Regions from separate parts of the Homo sapiens genome. Here region 1 is linked to region 2. The links come from fine-mapping of genetic effects on gene expression. A gene starts in region 2. The other region holds a variant in brackets. All regions are shown on one strand. Distances are from middle to middle.

What was found. PIP is the estimated chance that this variant, and not a neighbour inherited with it, causes the effect.
Region 1: its variant is fine-mapped to the expression of C1orf50 in transverse colon (CEDAR, PIP 0.94).

Annotation. Positions count from the first base shown.
Region 1 is chr1:42,648,163-42,653,541 of GRCh38, reverse strand. CCDC30 (coiled-coil domain containing 30) reads right to left here. Exons shown (of 21, transcript NM_001395517.1): 20 at 99-166. The region is part of intron 1 of LOC124904162 (a long non-coding RNA gene); the gene reads left to right. Among named protein-coding and RNA genes, the nearest start is that of PPIH, 7.6 kb to the left of the region's middle. The variant T/ATT (reference allele first, on the strand shown) is at 3,052.
Region 2 is chr1:42,764,996-42,770,374 of GRCh38, reverse strand. It overlaps C1orf50 (chromosome 1 open reading frame 50), which reads right to left and starts at 3,126. Exons shown (of 5, transcript NM_024097.4): 1 at 2,985-3,126; 2 at 2,751-2,866. The coding sequence starts at 3,063. P3H1 (prolyl 3-hydroxylase 1) reads left to right here and starts at 3,347. Exons shown (of 15, transcript NM_022356.4): 1 at 3,347-3,868. The coding sequence starts at 3,404. RefSeq lists silencers at 2,839-2,978, 3,599-3,708 and an enhancer at 3,969-4,088.

The sequences.
Region 1 (5,379 bases), 120 kb after region 2:
GCCAGCAATCCAGGACTAGTTAGGCAGCCATGACTCTCAGGCATGGCTGACAGTCCATCTCAGATAGACTTGACTTTATTTGTCTTGACTTTACTAACCTGGAGTTTGATAAAGGCAATATTTCATTCACTACTTCGGATTCAAGGATGTCACTAATTGTTGTTTCCTAAAAGGAAAGAAAGGATGAATGTGAAAAGTTATAATGATAAACCATTAGCTATATGATCCTAGAAAAAAATATATATATAATAGATACAATACCTGCACATAGTACAAACAATGAAAAACATAAAAGGGTACAGAATGAAAAGCTGGTTGCCCTCTCTCTCTCTATATATATAACCTATCTATATTTATCTATAGACGATCTATCTATATCTGTCTATCTAGTTTTACACACATGGTACTATACATACTATCTTCACCTTGCTTCTTTTGTTATATAAATTTTGGAGATATTGCAGAAAATTTTATTTTTAAAATAACTGCTTTGTTGAGAAGTAATTCACATACTATAAAGTTTTCCCTTTTAACGGGTTCAATTCAGTGCTTTCTAATGTACTCACACACTTATGCAACCATCACCACTGTCTAATTCCAGAATATTTTCATCACCCCCCAAAAAAGCCCATACCCAGGAGCAGTCTACTCCCCATTTATTCCTCCCCCAAATCCTTGGCAATCACTAATATACTTTCTGTCTTTATGGATTTCCTTATTCTGGATGTTTCATATAAATAGAATCATACAATATGTGGCCTTTTATGTCTGCCTTCTTTAAAATATTATCATGTTTTCAAGCTTCATTATGTTAGAGTAAGTATCAATAGTTTATGTCTTTTATGGCTGAATAATATTCCAGTGTTTGGATAAAACACATTTTGTTTATCCATTCATCAGGGGATGGAGAGTGGGTTGTTTTCACTTTTTAGTTATTATGAATAATGCTGCTATGAATATTTATCTACAAGTTTCTGGTAGGACATATATTTTTATTTCTCTTGGATATTGTGATGGTCAGAAAGTTTTTTCAAATTTTTATTTATACTATTGAATATTGACAAATTATAAGTGCCTATACTTACGGTGTACAAAGTGATGCTATGATATATAATATGGAATGATTGAATTGAGGTAATTAACATATCCATCACCTCAAATACTTACTCCTCCGGTCTAACTGAAACATTGCACCTTTGGCCAACATCTCCCCATTGCCTCCTCACCCCTCAGCCTCTGGTAACCAGCATTTTGCTCTATGCTTACATGTGTTCAATTGTTTTAGATTCCACATTTAAGTGAGAAGATGTGGTATTTGTTTTTCTGTGCCAGGCTTTTTTCACTTAGCATAATATCCTCCAGGTTCACCAATGTTGTTGCCAATGACAGAATTTCCCTCCTTTTTAAGGTTAAATAGTATTGTATCATATATATATACCACATTTTCACACACCATAGTGTATATCACATACTGACTTCAAATCCTTTGGATGTATACCCAGAAGTAAGATTGCTGGATCATATGGTAGTTCTATTTTCACTTTGTTGGGGAAACTCCACAGTTTTCCATAATTGCTGTACTAATTTATATTCCAAACAACAGTGTACAAGGTTTCCCTTTTCTCCACATCCTTGCCAACACATTATCTTTCATATTTTTGGTTTGTTGAGATAGGGTGTTGCTCTGTCACCCAGGCTGGAGTGCAGTAGCATGAACATAGTTCACTGCAGCCTTGACCTCCTGGGCTTAAGGAATCCTCACACCTCAGCCTCCTGAGAAGCTACAACCACAGGTGCACACCACCACACCCAACTAATTAAAACAAAAAAAATTTTTTTTTGTAGATACAGGGTCTTGCTGTGTTGCCCAGGCTGGTCTGGAACTCCTGACCTCAAGCAATCTTTCCACCTCAGCCTCCCAAACTGCTGGGATTACAGGTTTGGGCTACCATGCCTGGCCCTTATCTTTCATCTTTTTGATAACAGTCATTTTGACAGGTGTGAGGTGATATCCCATTGTGGTTTTAATGTGCATTTCCATAACGATTCATGATGTTGAGCTTTTTTTTTTTCATATATCTGTTGTCCATTTGTATGTCTTTTTTTGAGAAATGTCTATTCAGGCCCTTTGCCTACTTTTTAATTGGGTTGTGTTCTTGCTATTGAGTTGAGATCCTTATATATTTTGGATATTAATCCCTTATCAGATGTGTAGCTTACAGATATTTTCTCCCAATCCATAGGTTGCCTCTTCACTCTGTTAATTGTTTCTTTTGCTGTGCAGAAGCTTTTTAGTTTGATATAATCCCATCCCATTTGTATATGTTTGTTTTTGTTCCCTGAGCTTTTCGTGTCACATTGGAAAAATTGTTGTCCAGGTCAATATCATGTAGTTTTTCCCCTATGTAGTGTTCTTCTAGTAGTTTTACAATTTCAGGTCTTGTCTTTAAGTCTTTAATCCATTTGGAGTTGATTTTTTAATGTGGTGTTAGGTAACGGTCCACTTTCATTCTTCTGCACATAGATATCCAGTTTTCTCAATACCGTTTTGTTGAAGGGACTGTCCTTTTCTCAATGTCATTTTCATCCTTTGTCAAAAAATTAACTGACTGTAGGCCAGGTGTGGTGTCTGACACCTATAATCCCAGCATTTTGGGAGGCCAAGGCAGAAGCATTGCTTAAGCCCAGGAGTTTGAGACCAGCCTGGGCAACATGACAAGACCCCATCGCTACAAAAAATTTAAAGAATTAGCTGAGTGTGATGGCGTGCACCTATGGTTCCAGCTACTTGGAAGGCTGAGGTGGGAGGATTGCTTGAGCCCAGGAAGTTGAGGCTGCAGTGAGCTGTGATTGCCACTGCTCTCCAGCCTGGGCAGCAGAAAAAGAAAAATCAATTTTAAATGTGTGGGTTTGTTTTTAAGCTCTCTATGCTGTTTCATTTTGTCAATGTGTCTGTTTTAATGCCAGTCCCATGTTGTTTTAATTACTGTAGTTCTGTTATACACACACACACACACACACACACACACACACACACACACACATATATAT[T/ATT]TTTTTAGACAGGGTCTTGTTCTGTTACCCAGGCTGGAGTGCAGTGGCACAATCATGGCTCACTGCAACCTCTACCACCTGGGCTCAAGCAATCCTCTTGCCTCAGCCTCCCAAGTAGCTGAGATTACTATGCCCAGCTAATTTTTTACTTTTTTGTAGAGATAGGGTTTTGCAATGTTGGTCTTGAACTCCTGGGTACAAGCTGGTCTCAAACTCCTGGGCCCAAGCAATCTGCCCCCCTCAGCCTCCCACAGTGCTGGGATTACAAGCCTGAGCCACCGTGCCCAACCTGTAATATAGTTTGAAATCAGGTAGTATGAGGCCTCCAGCTTTGTTCTTTCTGCTGAATATTGCCTTGGCTATTTGGGGGTTTTGTAGTTCCACATGAATTTTAGGACTGTTTTTTCTATTTCTACGAAAAATGACATTGGAATTTTGATAGGTATTGCACTGAACCTATAGATTGCTTTGGGTGGTATGGGCATTTTAGCAATATTAATTCTTTCGATTCATGAACATTAATATCTTTTCATTTATCGTATTTTCTTCAATTTATTTCATCAAAGTTTTGTAGTTTTAAGTATACGGATCTTTCACCTCTTTGGTTAAATTTATTCCTGAGTAGTTTATTTCTTTTGAAGTTATTGTAAATGGTATTATTTTCTTTATTTCTTTTTTGGATAATGTGTTATTGGTGTATAGAAGCACTACTGATTTTGGTGTGTTGATTTTGGTGTGTTGATTTTGTATCCTTCAACTTTACTATATTTGCTTCTTAGTTCTAACAGTTTTTAGGGATTTCTATATATAAGATCATGTCAACAAGTAGACACAATTTCAGTTTCCTTTCCTATTTGGATGCCTTTTATTTCTTTCTCTTGCCTAATTGCTCTGGCAAAGATTTCCAGTATATATGAAATAGAAGTGGTGAGCGTGGGCATCCTTGTCTTGTTCTTGATCTTTGAGAAAAAGCTTCCAACTTTTCTCCATTGAGTATAATGTTAGCTGTGGGCTTGTCATATATGGCCTTTATTGTATTGAGGTACATTCCTCCTAAACCTAATCTTTTGAGAGTTTTTATCATGAAAGGATTTGAATTTTGTCAGATGCTTTTTCTGTATGTAATAAGATGATCATATGGTTTTTGTCCTTCATTCTATTAATGTGGTGTATCATGTTTATTGATTTGCATATGTTGAGCCATCCTTGTATTCCTGGGACAAATCTCACTTGATCATGGTGAATGATCTTTTTATAGTCTTGCCTGGTTTTGGCATCTGGGTAATGCTGGCCTCATTTAATGAGTTTGTTAGTATTCCCTCCTCTTTATTTTTTTTGAAGAGTTTGAGTAAGATTGGTATTCCTTCTTTAAATATTTGGTGGACTTCAGGAGTGAATCCAGCAGGTTCTGATCTTTTCTTTGATGGAAGACTTTTTATTATGGCTTTGATCATATGATTCATTATTCGTTTGTTGAAGTTTTCTATTTCTTCATGGTTCAATCTTGGTAGGTTGTATGTTTCTAGAAATTTATCCATTTCTTCTAGGTTTTCCTATTTGTTGGCATATGGTTATTCATAATAGTCTCTAATGATTCTTTGTATTTCTGAGATCTCAGTTGTTATGTCTCCTTTTTCATTTCTGATTTATTTATTTGGGTCTTCTCTCTTTTTTTCTTAGTTTGTCCAGCTAAAGATTTGTTGATTTTGTTTATCTTAAAAAAAAACCCAACTTTTTGTTTCATTGATCTTCTATATTGTTCTTTTAATCTCAATTTCATTTATTTCTGCTCTAATCTTTTTTGTTTGTTTGTTTTGTTTTGAGACAGAGTCTTGCTCTGTCACCCAGGCTGGAGAGCAGTGGCGTGATCTCGGCTCACTGCAACCTCCACCTCCCAAGTTCAAGTGATTCTGCTGCCTCAGCCTCCCAAGTAGCTGGGATTACAGGTGCATGCCACCACGCCCAGCTAATTTTTTGTATTTTTAGTAGAGACAGGGTTTCACTGTGTTAACCAGGATGGTCTCAATCTCCTGACCTTGTGATCCGCCTGCCTTGGCCTCCCAAAGTGCTGGGATTATAGGTGTGAGCCACTGCGCCCGGCCTGCTCTAATCTTTATTATTTCTTTCCTTGTATCAATTTTGGGTTTGGTTTGTTCTTGCTTTTCTAGTTTCTTGAGGTGCATCTTCAGGTTATTTGAAGTCTTTCCACTTTTTTGATATAGGTGTTTGTTGTTATAAACTTCCCTCTTAAGGCCAGGCATGGTGGCTTATGCCTATAATCCCAGCACTTTCGGAGGCTGAGGCGGGTGGATCACCTGAGGTCGGGAG
Region 2 (5,379 bases):
GTAGTTCCAGATTAGGGGTGGCCTTATAATAACCCTCCCTTTTCTTAAGGTGTTAGCAATAAATCTCATAAACAAAATTTGAATTTATATTTTGAAGAGTTAATATAAAATGCAAAATATGGATTAGTCTGAGGTCCAAAAAAAGGAAAAAAGAAACAAACAAAAAAAATGCAAAATATTTCACGAACAACTTAAAAACAAAAGAGCCTCATAAAAAAGAAAGGAAGGGAAGAGTACCTACAACTACTAAGCACTAACCCTGGCCTCAACTACTCTGAGGCCCTTTACATTCATCTCATTTACTTCTCACAACACCTTTATGACGCTGGAGATGATAACCTCACTTTCTCATTTTAGCAATTAAGACTCACAGACATGAGGCAACCTGTCCAAGGTTTCACAGATAATAAACAGCAAAGGATCTGAACACAGGTCAGATTCCAAAATTCATGCCTTAATACCAGGCCTCCTGAGCTTTCTGAACACACACCAATACCTGGGTCAGTCTTGCTAAAAAAGTACTTTTTTTTTTGAGACGGAGTCTTACTTTGTCACCCAGGCTGGAGTGAAGTGGCACAATCTCCACTCACTGCAACATCTGCCTCCCAGGTTCAAGTGATTCTCCGGCCTCAGCCTCATGAGTAGCTGGAATTACGGGCGTCTGCCACCATGCCCGGCTAATTTTTTGTATTTTTAGTAGAGACAGGGTTTCACTATGTTGGCCAGGCTGGTCTTGAATTCCTGATCTCGTGATCCACCCGCCTTGGCCTCCCAAAGTGCTCGGATTACAAGCGTGAGCCACTGCACCCAGCCCACCACCATTTTTTTTTCTTTTTAGACTTGCTCTGTCACCCAGGCTGGAGTGCAGTGGTGTGATCTCAGCTCACTGCAACCTCTGCCTCCCAGGTTCAAGCAGTTCTCCCGCCTCAGCCTCCAGAGTAGCTTCGGACTACAGGCACACACCACCATGCCCGGCTAATTTTTTGTATTTTAGTAGAGACAGGGTTTCACATGTCGCCCAGGTTGGTCTCCAACTCCTGAGCTCAGGCAATCCTCCCGCCTTAGCCTCCCAAAGTGCTAAGATTACAGGCGTGAGCCACCACACCCAGCCTCATTTTTTTGTTTTTTTTTAAGAGTCTCACTCTGTCACCAATTCTGGAGTACAGTGGTGCGATCTCGGCTCACTGCAACCTCTGTCTCCTGGGCTCAAGCGATTCTCATGCCTCAGCCTCCCGAGTAGCTGAGACTACAGGCATGAGTCACCACACCTTTTAGTAGAGACGGGGTTTCACCATGTTGGCCAGACTGGTCTCGAACTCCTGACTTCAAATGATCCACCCACCTTGGCCTCCCAAAGTGCTGGGATTACAAGTGTGAGCCACGGCACCTGGCCAAAAAGTACATTTTAGATAGTTAATATGTTTGATTCAATTTGTTTGTCTCTAAAGTTTTTTTTTTCTTCAGCTTCTCAAATACAGATTGTATTGGGGAAACAGAGGCAGCATAATAATGCATCCTCTGTATTTCATAAGATTATAGGATGAAAGACAAAAACTGTGTTCTTTCTTCCATCTGTTCAGGCCATCGTAATAAACACGATAGTCATTCAATAGCACATGAATACGTTGTGTGCACAAGATTCTGTCCCTGCCAACCTCCCTCCCAATAAGAGTAATCTGATTAACTAGATGCATATTCTCTTAATAAATAAAAGTTGCACTTTGCTCCCCAGCTCTTCAAAAAGAAGAAAGCCAAGTTTTGAATTAAAGGAGCTTTCTGCGTATCTGAATTTTTCTTAATTTTAAAAAAAAAAGGATTCGAAGGATTTCTAGGATCATTGAAAAAAAAAGAGATGTGAGGGAATTTGAGCACATTAAATAATTTTGGGCAAAGCAAAGACCCTGGAACATAATCAAGGCCAAATCTGATAGTGTATACAGGGATAAGGGGCCATGATAATCTTTAAAACAGCAGGACCCTCCATCTGTGGACACTGAAGAGGGTGTACAACTGGAAGTCTTGATAAGAGATAAGAAGGAATCTGGTTTTTCATTGAATAATGACAAAACTTTAGATCTTGGAGCTCTACTACTTCAAACCTTTCACTTCACAGATAAAATAGTTGAGGTCCAGAGAGAAGTAATCTGCCTTAAGTCGCACTGCAAGTTAGTATCAAAAGTGGGATTAATACTCATGTGTCCAAACTTCCAGTGTTTTTTCCATTATTTCACATTTCCTCCTTATTTGACTTATTTTGGCCATCCATATATAAACACTGGGCTTGGGAATACTGTGTTTAATGAGGACTAAACTTGGAGTCCTTGCCCTGCTAGAAGATGTTTAAACTCTCAGGTAACAAAGATCTTATGGGAAGCAGCTTAAAATAAGCGGACCTTGAAACTTCCCGAAGAACTTTTCTTTGTGTCAAATGGGAAGAATAACTCTGTACTGCCTACCTCACAAGGCTGTCCTAAGGTGCAAATGAAATAATGAACACTAAAGTGTTGTGTAAACCTTCCCACGAAGGAAGATTATGGGCACTCAAGTTGCAGTTAGAGGAACCTTTGGTCCCAGAAGGTCATTCGAATCAGGCCACCGACTCACAATGACAGTCGGCTTTACTCGTCTGTAAAATGGAGACAAGAGCAAATGCCACCCCCACCATAGGTGGTAGTGAGGTCTGAGCCGAAAGACGCAGAGTACAACGTGAACGAAGATGGTTATTCGCTGCCCCGGCCGCGCCTCCTCACCTTCTGCACCTGCTCTGCGAGCGCCACGAGGTCTAAGGGGTCCCCGGCCCGGTGGGTGTGGTAGGGGCTCACCAGGGCCAGGCCGCCGGGGGTCGGGGTGAGCTCCACCAGGGCTCCTGCGACACACACCCAGGAACACAAGCCGTGAGCTCCCGCCGTCGGCCTCCCGCGGAGCCCCGAGACCGGCTGCCTCGCGGGAGCTGACTTCCCCCTGCTGACTCCCGCCCCGCATACCTCCCTGGCCTGCAGCTGGCGGCGCTCCTTGCCTTTCAAGGACCCCCTCGGTCCGCCCCGGCGCGGCGGCGTCCTCCATGACAGCGCCTTATCCTCCCCACTCCCTGGGCTGTGCGAGTAGGAAGAGCCTGCGCATAAAGGCGCGTGGGCGGAGCTTCCGTCTTTCTTGTCTACTGGGCGTCAGTTCGACTGAGCAAGGCCTGAGCTCGGAGGCGGGGCTCCGGCTGACGCGCCGGGATTCGCTGAGGGCCGGTGGGGGGATCCGGGCTGACTGAAAGGAAAAGAGGCGGTGCAAGCCTCGTGGGCATGCGCCGCCCGGCTTGGAAGGTGGGGCTTCGCCCGGGGGCGGGCCTTCGCCGGGGGTAGGACTCCGGCCTTGGTGGCGGGTGGCTGGCGGTTCCGTTAGGTCTGAGGGAGCGATGGCGGTACGCGCGTTGAAGCTGCTGACCACACTGCTGGCTGTCGTGGCCGCTGCCTCCCAAGCCGAGGTCGAGTCCGAGGCAGGATGGGGCATGGTGACGCCTGATCTGCTCTTCGCCGAGGGGACCGCAGCCTACGCGCGCGGGGACTGGCCCGGGGTGGTCCTGAGCATGGAACGGGCGCTGCGCTCCCGGGCAGCCCTCCGCGCCCTTCGCCTGCGCTGCCGCACCCAGTGTGCCGCCGACTTCCCGTGGGAGCTGGACCCCGACTGGTCCCCCAGCCCGGCCCAGGCCTCGGGCGCCGCCGCCCTGCGCGACCTGAGCTTCTTCGGGGGCCTTCTGCGTCGCGCTGCCTGCCTGCGCCGCTGCCTCGGGCCGCCGGCCGCCCACTCGCTCAGCGAAGAGATGGAGCTGGAGTTCCGCAAGCGGAGCCCCTACAACTACCTGCAGGTCGCCTACTTCAAGGTGCAGACCTGCCTGGAACCAGGCGGCCGGGGTCCTTCTGGGGAGAGGAGTGTTGCAGGGGACCTGAGGAGCTTGGGGGATCGGGGAAGTGTCCGCAGGGAGGGGAAAGTGGCCTCCTGGCTGGGGAGCTCTCCTCGGAGCCGGGGAGAGCTGCTCCCTGGCAGGAGACCTTCCTCGCCCAGTTCGCATGGGCAGATGCTAACCCCAAAGGTCCAGCCTGGGGTTAGGGCACAGGCCAAGCAAAACTCATGGCCATTTTGTTCCCTGGGAAATCTCCTGGAAGGAATTAAAGCGGCAGTTTGGGTCTCCCATTCTGATGTCATTGTAAGTGTCCGAGTGAGAAGCTAGTAGCGGTCTACAATATCTCCCTTCCGGTTGGTTTTCCAGTGGTGCTTTTCCTGCTGTTTGATTCAGCAGCTCTCTTTCAGGATGTGAGGTTGCCACGTCGCCAGCAGGGGCTGCCTGGCCCTTTCTGTGTGTGTGTGGGGGCGGGGGGGGGACCCTCTGGCTAGTCTGCCAGGTTTACAAAGAAAATGAGTATTTTTCGGAATGCCAGAGTGCCATGTGTCCAAGTGTACACTTGGGCTTGGAGCGTTCCAGGCTTGTTTGGTGGTGGTGATGGTGACGATGATGATGATGATGATAGCCAGCACATACTTCCAGGCACTATTTTAAGCAGTTTGCATTTATTAACGCATTTGCCCTAATCTTCATAATATCTTGTCAGGTAGATGCTGTTATTAGTCCCACTGTATTGGGGGTGGGGGGAGAAAGAGTTGTGCATTATATCTGGTATATCTGTTGTTTAAAAGACCTTCGATTCGATCTAAAGAGACACTTAGAGACTCTTGGGGACCTCAGATTTCCACCCCTCCACAGCATTCTGCCTACACAGTTCCCCTCATTTTTCCTAGTTACTCGGAAGAGCGCTGGACTTGAAATCAAAATAATTGCGTTATGTCTTTGGTTATGTCGCTTCATCATAGCACTTTCTAAAACTATTTGACAAACATGTATTGCATACCTACTGCATTCCAGTTCTTGTACAAGTAATTAAATGCTCGACTAACGTCTTTGCTTTGTCTTGCTTTGCTGTTAAGAGTTACTGTAGTAAGGGCTACTGCAAGGGCATATACTTAGGGCTGCGGGAGCACAAAGGAGGGAGACTCTAGCTTTATCTCAGAGAAATTAGACTTCAAAGAAGAGGTAATATTGAAGCCTGCCCTAAGTATTGCCAGGGGGAGAGGAAAGAAGGCTCCTCCAGATAGAGAGAAAAGTAGAACCAAAGCATGATGTATTCAGGAAAAAAAATGAACTCTTGTGATTGCAATGTCGAGATGTGTGTGGGGAGTAGTAGGAGAGGCGGCTAGAAAAGTCAGTGAGGCCAGATTTGGAAGAGAATTCTGCGGACTGCAGGGAGCCATCCTCAGATTTGGGTTTTAAAACGCTTATTCTGGAAGCCATGGTGAATGAGCCTTGGAAGAAGGAGAAAGTGGTGGCACTTGATTAGG